Homo sapiens: one gene and its partner. The protein of the gene in region 1 purifies or fractionates together with the protein of each later gene. This does not show direct contact. Each region holds a gene or a part of one and is shown in the gene's direction. Other genes may lie near its edges.

The links. The genes of interacting proteins can lie anywhere in the genome.
Region 2: the proteins of ZNF808 (region 1) and FLG2 purify together in Homo sapiens (co-immunoprecipitation; one large-scale study listed by IntAct). This does not show direct contact.

The regions. Positions count from the first base shown.
Region 1 is NC_000019.10:52,526,201-52,530,976, forward strand, and holds the start of ZNF808 (zinc finger protein 808), read left to right. Parts: upstream 1-1,467; 5' UTR 1,468-1,511; exon of another isoform or gene 1,512-1,709; intron 1,710-4,776.
Region 2 is NC_000001.11:152,357,080-152,362,079, reverse strand, and holds the start of FLG2 (filaggrin-2), read left to right. Parts: upstream 1-2,073; 5' UTR 2,074-2,124; intron 2,125-3,173; 5' UTR 3,174-3,195; coding exon 3,196-3,333; intron 3,334-4,432; coding exon 4,433-5,000. UniProt on the Homo sapiens protein: Essential for normal cell-cell adhesion in the cornified cell layers. Important for proper integrity and mechanical strength of the stratum corneum of the epidermis.

The DNA.
Region 1 (4,776 bases):
TTCTCATTTGGGATAATATTTTTTAGTTTTCAATTATATTTTGTCAACATTTAAAAAGCAAAGTAAAGAATATTTCTTGGGCCAGGCATGTTGGCTGACGCATGTAATCCCAGCATTTTGGGAGGCTGACACAGGCAAATAACTTAAAGTGAGGAGTTCGATACCGGCCAGGTCACCGTAGTGATACCCCGTCTCTATGAAAAATACAAAAATTAACCGGGCATCGTGGCACGCGCCTGTAATGCCAGCTGCTCCCGAGGCTGAGGCAGGAGAATCGCTTGAACCCAGGAGGCAGAGGCTGCATTGAGTTGAGATCTCGCCACTGCACTCCAGCCTGGGCAACAGAAATACTGTGTCTCAATAATAGTAATAATAATAATAATAATAATAAAGTAATAGATCTCTTCCACAAATGTGCTGGGACAACTAACTGGATATCCACATGGAAAAGAGTAATGTTGGATCCCTATGTCACACCATCAAAAATTTTATTTAAAAAAGTTTTTTTTTTTTTTTTAAAAAGGGAAAAGGCCCGGGCGCGGTGGCTCACGCCTGTAATCCCAGCACTTTGGGAGGCCGACGTGGGCGGATCACCTGAGGTCGGGAGTTCAGCCTGGCTAACATGGTGAAACCCTGTCTCTACTAAATATACAAAATTAACTGGGCATGGTGGCGCATGCCTGTAGTCCCAGCTACTCGGGAGGCTGAGGCCGGAGTATCGCTTGAAACCAGGAGGCGGAAGTTCTAGTGAGCTGGGATCACTCCACGGCACTCCAGCCTGGGCGACGGAGTGAGACTCTGTCTCCAAAAAAAAAAAAAGGGAAAGAGAGAGAGAGAGACTAGGAAGGGAGACCTGCCGCAGTGGGTGTTACTTTGTCGCCCAGGCTGGCTTGGGACCCCAGGCTCAGCAATTCTCTCCGTTGCTTCCTGAGTAGCTGGGACCTGAGGCTCCCGCCCCCGCGCCTCTGCTGTGTTTAAGCAGCAGGTGGTGACCTCACTCCTTCCTGGCCTAAGCACTCCGTCCCGCACCCCTGGCGGTGGCTTTAAGGAAGTCTCTGAAGCTGAGCTCAGGGTGGACTCTCCCTCCCTAGTGAATGGAGATAGAAAGGGAGAGGACATCTATTCTGTTCCGTGGGCCGTCACCATGACATCGTACATGCCGCCCAGGCAGGGCTTTGCATTTCACATTCTAGTTTGCATCCCGGTTCCAGACAATTCCAGGGCTTTGGAATCATGCCTCAGACTTTCTGGCGCTCTCGCCTCCACAACCTAAAAACAGAGACGCTAGGAGAGAGGCTGAAAGACGCGCAAGTCCCGCCCCGGCCCCGCCCCGGCCCCGCCCTCTGCCGGTTCTAAAGGGCAAGGTCTCAGCGCCTCGCGCCCCGCCGCTACCTCGCCCAGGCCCCGCCCACCTCCTCCCACCTCCCGCCCAGGCCTGGCTTCCGTCCTGCGCGCGGAGATTAACGCAAACCCGGAAGCGGATCGGGTGGAGTGAAGGTCACGTCGCCATGGTGAGTTTTGCTCTGTGTTGCATTAAGTCTCCGCTTCCCAGGTCCCCGCCGCTTCTGTCCCTGGGACGTGGGGTCCCCACAGACCTGGAAATTCTCGCCCGTCTTCCTTCGCCCAGAGCAAATTGAGACAGCCCAGTGAGAGGCCGGGTGTCGCTTCCTTTCGGGTTTAAAGTCGTCTGGAGGCTGGTCCCGTCCCGGGTCTGTCTGCTATAGGGCAATGTATACACTTTCTATTGCGTAGTTTTTCTGCTCAAAACCTTCTTCTGACTCTTCCCTCCTCGCGCTATTTAAAGTCTTCACCCACGAGGTGGATTCTTGCCCGGGGCGCACCTCCCAGCCACCCCTCGTCGGCCCCTGGAGCGTCGCGCCGCAGCCCCAGTCCCAGGGAGGCCGCGTCCTCTGCCTGGTCCTGGGATCTTGCAGACCCCATCCTTCTCCCAAGGCGCCGTCCCCCCTCCTCCCACCTCCCTACTCGTGCCAGAGCCTGCGGCTCCCCAGGTCTCTCCTCCGCAGTCACCGCTTCCATTGAACCCACACTGGGAAGGACGCAGGGCCCTGTCCTGTGACATGGGGTCTTCTTGCCTGCCGAGCTCCAGCCCTTGGAAAACGCGCTCCTCCGGGATGCAGGCGTCTTACTCCAAACCCTCCTGCGATTGTGTGGGCCGAAGGGATCAGGAGACAGACAGCAGTAGAAAACCTGAGACAGAGAAAGAATAAGAAAGGCCCATAACAGATGGCAAAATAGAGGATTGGTGAGGGATATGCCAAGATATGGTGAAAGTGGAAAAAGAAAGCAACAAAATACCTAGAAAAGCAGGTGGAGAAAAGCAACTGGAGAAATGTAGAGAAAAGCTAGATGTACACAGAGATGAAGGACGGCAAGGTAGGGAGAGTGGCAGCAAAGAGGGAGGCTCATCAGAGTGAGGGAGAGAGGGAGGGATTTGGAGCCAGGGCAGACAGAGCAGAGTGGTGCTGGTGTCAAGGAGAACCGAGGGAGAAACACAGCAGGGAGGACACCTGGGGATCTGGGGTGACACAGAGTGGGGACAGGGGAGTATATCAGGGAAGAGAGAATTTAACAGGGAGAGCAGAGGAGGCGCAGAGATGGGTGAAGAGGCAGAAATAGATGGAGATTGAGGACGATTGAAAGATTGGGGAGAAGGAGCAATAAGAGGTTAAATAAGTTGCGAGGATGGAGCAGAAGAGATGGAAGAGAAGGAATAGAGGGAAGAAGGGGGATAAACAGCAGAAGAGAAGAGGGGTACAAAATGAAGAGCAGAATCCCAGGGAGAAAGAAAAGAAAACAAGAGCTAGAGAGAGAAGGGGGAGAATGAGAGATATGTACAGAATTAGGGAGGGAAGCGCAGTAATGAAGAAAGGGGGGCTAGGCACAGTGGCTCACGCCTGTAGTCTCCACACTTTAGGAGACTGAAGCAAGAGAATTGCTTGAGTCTAGGAGTTCGAGACCAGCCTGGGCAACATAGTGAGACCCCTATCTCTGCCAAAAAAAAAAAAAAGGAAATAACGGGGCATAATCGTGTGCACCTGTACTCCCAGCTGCTCTGGAGGTGGAGGTAGGAGGATGACTTGAGCTCAGGAGGTCCAGGCTGCAGTGAACTGAGATCATGCCACTACACTGCAGCCTGGTCAACAGAGCGAGATCTTGTCTCAAAAGAAAAAATGGGGCGAGAGACTGGGTTTAGATCAGTGGATGAGTTCATTGGATATGATTAGTTGTGACATGTTGACTTCCCTGTATATAATCTAATAACTAAAAACTTGTTTAAATTATACAGATTGAGAATTTTAAAATTGGTGTCTATAAAACATGTACATTCTATAAATCTTGGCATCAGAGGTTATGTTCCACTTGGAATCCCTATTCAACCAGAGGGAAGTGACTTATTCAGTTGTGAATCACTGTCTTCCCTTTTCCTAGGATTGGGAGGATGTGGGGTAGAGAAGTGGGAAAAAAGTCGCTGTCTGTTATTACATAATACTTTTAATTTAATTAATTAAATGATATTTTGAGTCAGGGTCTGGCTGTATCACACAGGCTGGAGTGCAGTGGCGTGATCCTCTAACTGTAGCCTCTACCTCTTGGACTCAAGTGATCCTCCTACCTCAGCCTTCTGAGTAGCTGGGACCAGAGGCATGAGCCACCAAGCCCAGCTAGTTTACATATATATATATATATATATTTTTTTTTTTTGTAGAAACGTGGTTTCACTATGTTTCCCAGGCTGTTCTCAAAACCCTGGGGTCAAAGGGTCCTCCTGCCTTGGCCTCCCAAATTACTGGGATTACAGGTGGGATTACAGGGATGGCCCACCGCGTCTGGCCTACATAGCCCCCCCCTTTTTTTTGAGAGGGAGTTTTGTTCTTTTTGCCCAGGCTAGCGTGCGATGGCATGATCTCAGCTCACCACAACCTCCGCTCCCTGGCTTCAAACAATTCTACTGCCTCACTCTCCAGAGTAGTTGGGAGTACAGGCATGCACCACCATGCCTGGCTAATTTTGTGTTTTTAGTAGAGACGAGGTTTCTTCATGTTGGTCCAGGCTGGTCTTTAACTCCCTACCTCAAGTGACCCGCTGCCTCGGCCTCCCAAAGTGCTGGGATTCCTGGCGTGAGCCACCACTCTCAACCCATAGTAGTTTTTAAAAGGGACATCAAGGCATGGTGGCTCACGCCTGTAATCCCAGCACGTTGGGAGACAGAGGTGGGTGGATCATGAGGTCAGGAGTTCAAGACCAGCCTGGCTGACACAGTGAAACTCAATCTCTACTAAAAAATACAAAAATTAGCCAGGCATGGTGGCAGATGCCTGTAATCCCAGCTACTCAGGAGGCTGAGGCAGGAGAATTACTTGAACCCGGGAAGCAGAGGTTGCAGTGAGCCGAGATTGCATCACTGCATGCCAGGCTGGGCAACGGAGCTAGACTCCATCTGACAAAAAAAAAGAGAGAAAGAAAAAGTAAGGAACATCAAAGTTGGGCCTGGTGGCTCATTCCTGTAATCCCAGCACTTTGGGAGCAAATCACTGAAGGCCAGGAGCTCGAGACCAACCTGGCCTACATGGTGAAACCCCGTCTCTACCAAAAATACAAAAATTAGCTGGCCATGTAGACATACGCCTCTAATTTCACCTACTCCGGAGGCTGAGGCAGGAGAATTACTTGGACCCGGCTGGGAGGCAGAGGTTGCAGTGAGCCATGATCACACTACTGCACTCCAGCCTGGGTGACAGAGTGAGACTCCGTCTC
Region 2 (5,000 bases), on another chromosome or scaffold:
GAAGATTAGATAATTGTACAAGAAATGCAGTAAGAGGCAAAATTGAGATTAGAACTTAGGTCTTTCTGACTATAATTTTATCCATTATGCTAAGCAAGTAGAAGAGGAAGAGAGACCTAAATGCAAAGAATACAAAAGACTGAATAATGGAGTTCTGAACTATGGAGGAGTTTCAGAGTTCTCAACTATAATGCTGGAGTGACAGTGCAAAAATGCTTTAAAATTCTGTCTCAGTGTGGAGTCTGGGGCCTGAAAGTCTTTCTGACACAGCAGCCATCTTAACAAAAATGCACTTCCAAAAGATGCATATGATTGAAAATGACCATAGTATCCAACAGCAACCATAACTTTCTGTGTGGTTGTTTTGGTCTAGGATTCCTTGGCTATGTGAGCAATTGACATATTTCAAGGGCCTATTCATTAACATTTTATGAACAGACACTCATTCTTAGTGTTTACCAAGCTCTAGGTGCTGCCTAGATGGTGGAATGAATAAGATATGATGACTGGCCCAAAGCAATGCCCAGATAGGAGTTTATTGACTCCATATATGTAGAATATATATGGTTAAGTGCTAGGCTTTAGCATCGGCTAGCATGTGTATCTGTTCTAGTGCTGCTACTAACTAGCTGCGATTTGTAACAAATGTTTACATTGCTCTATGCTTTTATTACCTTATCTATAAAATGGGGTTATTTTGAGGAATAAATAGATAAGCATGTAAACCTACCATGTATAGAAGATAGTAAGCACTTAGCACTTAATGGTAGCTGCTATCCTCCTCATCATCATCATTATCACCTGGTAGCAAAGTACAGCAGAATTGGCTCTCCATGCTTAAGACTTACAGCTCTCTGATTATTTTTGTTACCCTCAAGTGTATTTGATATACTTTCTGTACATAAGTGAACATTTTCCCAAGGGTCCAGGCCCTAAACATGCCAGACTACCAGTGGATCGCAGAGTGCTGGAAGAAAGCTCACTCTAAATTCACCCTGAACATATCTGAAAACATTATTTTTATATATAGCCAATTACACTTTTCTAGCCTAGAAATGAGCCTTCACAAGGTCAGAGAATGTTTCCTCTCTTCCTAACAGCACTCTGTATGTTACTTTTTTATATTATTTGCGTTTGAGTGGGCCTTACACTCCTAAAATGGTGCATAATTTTTGCATGATAGTTATATATGATAAATACACAGAGGTAAGTTAGTATAATGGTAAACAGCAATTGCAATAAGGTAGATACAGGTTCAACTTCTGGTTTCTCTGCCTACTAGCTATGACCTTGGAGAAGATCCTTATGCTTCCAGAACCTGTCTCTATAAAATGGGATAATAAATACATATCTCGTATGAAGGTTGTGAAGATTAAATGAGGTGATAAGATCTAGTATTTGGTAACATAATATGGTAACTATAGTTAACTATTTATTGTATATTTTTAAATAACTAAAATAGTAGAATTAGAATGTTCCTACTACAAAGAAATGCTTGAGGTGCTGGATACCCCAATTACTGTAATTTGATCATTACACATGGTATGCCCATATCAAAACATCACATGTACCCAACAATTATATACAACTATGTACCCATAACTAAAAGTGCAGATTTTTTAAAGATTGAGATGGTTTGTTTAAAGTATTTAGCACATAGTAAATTCTCAATAAATGTCACTTTTTATTATTACAAAAAAGACATGAATTAGATGAACCTAGTGGCTCAGGTTCATTTTCAATTAAATAAGCATTTATTGTGCACCTTCCAAGTATCTTACACTCTGCTACTTTCTGTGGGTACTAGTTAAAAGAAATGTATAACATGAGTCCTCTAAAACAAAGTCTGTGCTTTTCACATGTATATGACCCTGAAAAAAAAGGTATCTTGCAACCATGTCCTCGTACTGGAAGGTGGGGCTGGTACTAGCCTTTCTGCAATCATCTGTAGATAACAATGTGAAGGAGGAAGGTAAATATGTAGAGGTGGAGTTAGGTTTGATGGAAAATGAATCACCTCATTCACTATAATCACTATAAGCTATATAAGGGTCATTATCCCAATCCATCGTCACCCTGCAAGCTGCATCAGGCTTTATCCTACTTGTTCCTTTGGTGAACCAGGTGAGAGAAAATTCATCCAGCTACATTTATGAATATTTGGTGTTGTCCATAGTAGAAGTCTAGGGATATAAGCTAAGGCAGAGTTCATGTATATTTTGCCTTTCTTTTCTTTTTTGTTTCTTTCTTTCATTTTCTTTTCTTTTTGTTTGCTTATTTGTTTGGTTAGTTTAGTTTATTCTGGGGCCTTTTTGTAGTTAAGTTCATTTTTATGGAGAAGAATAATGCAAGTAAAAGTTCACCTTCCTCTAGGCCATTCCACAGTCTGTTCCGAGTCTTTTTCCATGCCCTCTTTTCTGGGCTGTCCAGCTCAAACTGGGAGGCAGCTGGGTCTGTTGCAGAGTCCCTTCCTTATTCAGTGTTGGTTCCCAGAGCTCCAAGATCTAATTATCCACTAGTTAAACTGCTGCCTGCATTGCTGAGCTCTTCTTCTTGATTAATTAAAGAAAACAGTGTTTGGTCAAGTGCTTGACATTAAGAGAGTTCCTAAGCTCTACTGAGTTCTACTGTCTCATGCCTATGAAACACCAAGCTATTTTGAGCCCCTTTGCCCATTTTTAATTTGCTGAAGGCCTTAAGGGTCCAGTTTAGCTTCTGGTGCCCAGAGGATAAACAGATGTGCATGGTGGAAGGTCTGTCACTTTTGACTCAAGAAAAGCAGTGAAACTAGAAAGAGAGATTGAGGCAATGGTGTCTGGCTGGTTCTGGAAATTTTGGAAGCCTTAGAACAACACCCAGAATGCCAACACACTCAAAGTGTAGAGATACTATGTAGAGACTATACTTACCCATGACAGGAAATATAGAGACTTGAGGTCTATTCTCAGTTGAACCAGTAACATGCCAAGACTTGATCACAGAAAAGTAACTCAAAGTTAACAAAGTTAATTTTCATTGTGTTAAACGGGGTTGTATCATCCCTGGCCCATTCTTACGTTTTGAGATTTAAAAAACAAGAGGTTAAAAAAATCATGCTGGTTATTATTAAAATGAAAATTGCTGATAAAAGGAGAGAATATGAATAATAGGGTTCTTTGTTTTTCTGTGTCCAGGTTCACTTAAACTTGCAAAAAGATGACCGACCTCTTGAGAAGTGTTGTCACCGTAATTGATGTTTTCTACAAATACACCAAGCAAGATGGGGAGTGTGGCACACTGAGCAAGGGTGAACTAAAGGAACTTCTGGAGAAAGAGCTTCATCCAGTTCTGAAGGTGAGAGCCATGTGCCAGAACTGAAGGCTGCTGGAGTCCTGTACAAGCTCTGTTGTATGACCCAGATCAGCTAAAAAGTGCACAGCCCCAGTGAACTCTAAGCAAACTCTATGAGTGGTATTTTGGGGATGCCAGAAAGTCTGTTAAAGCAGCAGATATTTTAAAGAAAGTGAATGTTTCGTCCTCACTTTTCCACCTATGCACTCCTACCTCATAGACTCTCAGACTTTCTCATACACCCAGGCTTTTCCTTAGAAAAAGCAGAAAATAAAATTATACTAGGACACGAATTAATAAATTATCCTATCAAATGGAAAAAAAAGTATAGAAAGGGAAATCATCTACATAGGGAGTTGACAAAATAGCCATGATTAAGAATCAAAAATAAAATGCCAGCATTTTATTCCATCTACTTAAAAAGGACTCAGCTAGGCGCGGTGGCTCATGCCTGTAATCCCAGCACTTTGGGAGGCCGAAGTGGGTGAATCACAAGGTAAGGAGATCAAGACCATCCTGGCTAATACGGTGAAACCCCATCTCTACTAAAAATACAAAAAATTAGCCGGGCGTGGTTGCATGCCCCTGTAGTCCCAGCTACTCGGGAGGCTGAGGCAGGAGAATGGCGTGAACCTGGGAGGCAGAGCTTGCAGTGAGCAGAGATCGCACCACTGCACTCCAGCCTGGGCTACAGAGCAAGACTCCATCTCAAAAAAAAAAAAAAGACTCAGTTATTAACTTCAAAATAATAGATGATAAATTCCAACATGGAAGATATTAACATGTAATAGTTACAATTTATGTAAAACTTAGAAATACCAGTTACTGAACTTAGTTTATTCCACTCCTTCCTGTAGGCCTTACCTAAGCACTTAATCCTTTAGCCTAAATCCTTGAAATGTCTTCTTCTGAGGATCCCAGTAGTCTTTATTTTCTATTAACCCTTAACATTTACTGGGTTCTATTAACCTAAAGTAATCCTTTATTGGACTAAAACTACATCATGTCAAACATCCATAATTTCACAGCGCTATTTAAATGTGTTAGTTGAGTATGCAGGTTAGGCTGACCAGGTCTCCCTTGGTGTGTCACTCATATACAGAACCCAGATGATCCAGACACAGTGGATGTCATCATGCATATGCTGGATCGAGATCATGACAGAAGATTGGACTTTACTGAGTTTCTTTTGATGATATTCAAGCTGACTATGGCCTGCAACAAGGTCCTCAGCAAAGAATACTGCAAAGCTTCAGGGTCAAAGAAGCATAGGCGTGGTCACCGACACCAAGAAGAAGAAAGTGAAACAGAAGAGGATGAAGAGGATACACCAGGACATAAATCAGGTTACAGACATTCAAGTTGGAGTGAGGGAGAGGAGCATGGATATAGTTCTGGGCACTCAAGGGGAACTGTGAAATGTAGACATGGGTCCAACTCCAGGAGGCTAGGAAGACAAGGTAATTTATCCAGCTCTGGGAACCAAGAGGGATCTCAGAAAAGATACCACAGGTCCAGCTGTGGTCATTCATGGAGTGGTGGCAAAGACAGACATGGTTCCAGCTCTGTAGAACTGAGAGAAAGAATAAACAAGTCACACATTAGCCCTTCTAGGGAATCTGGGGAGGAGTATGAATCTGGATCTGGATCAAACAGTTGGGAAAGGAAAG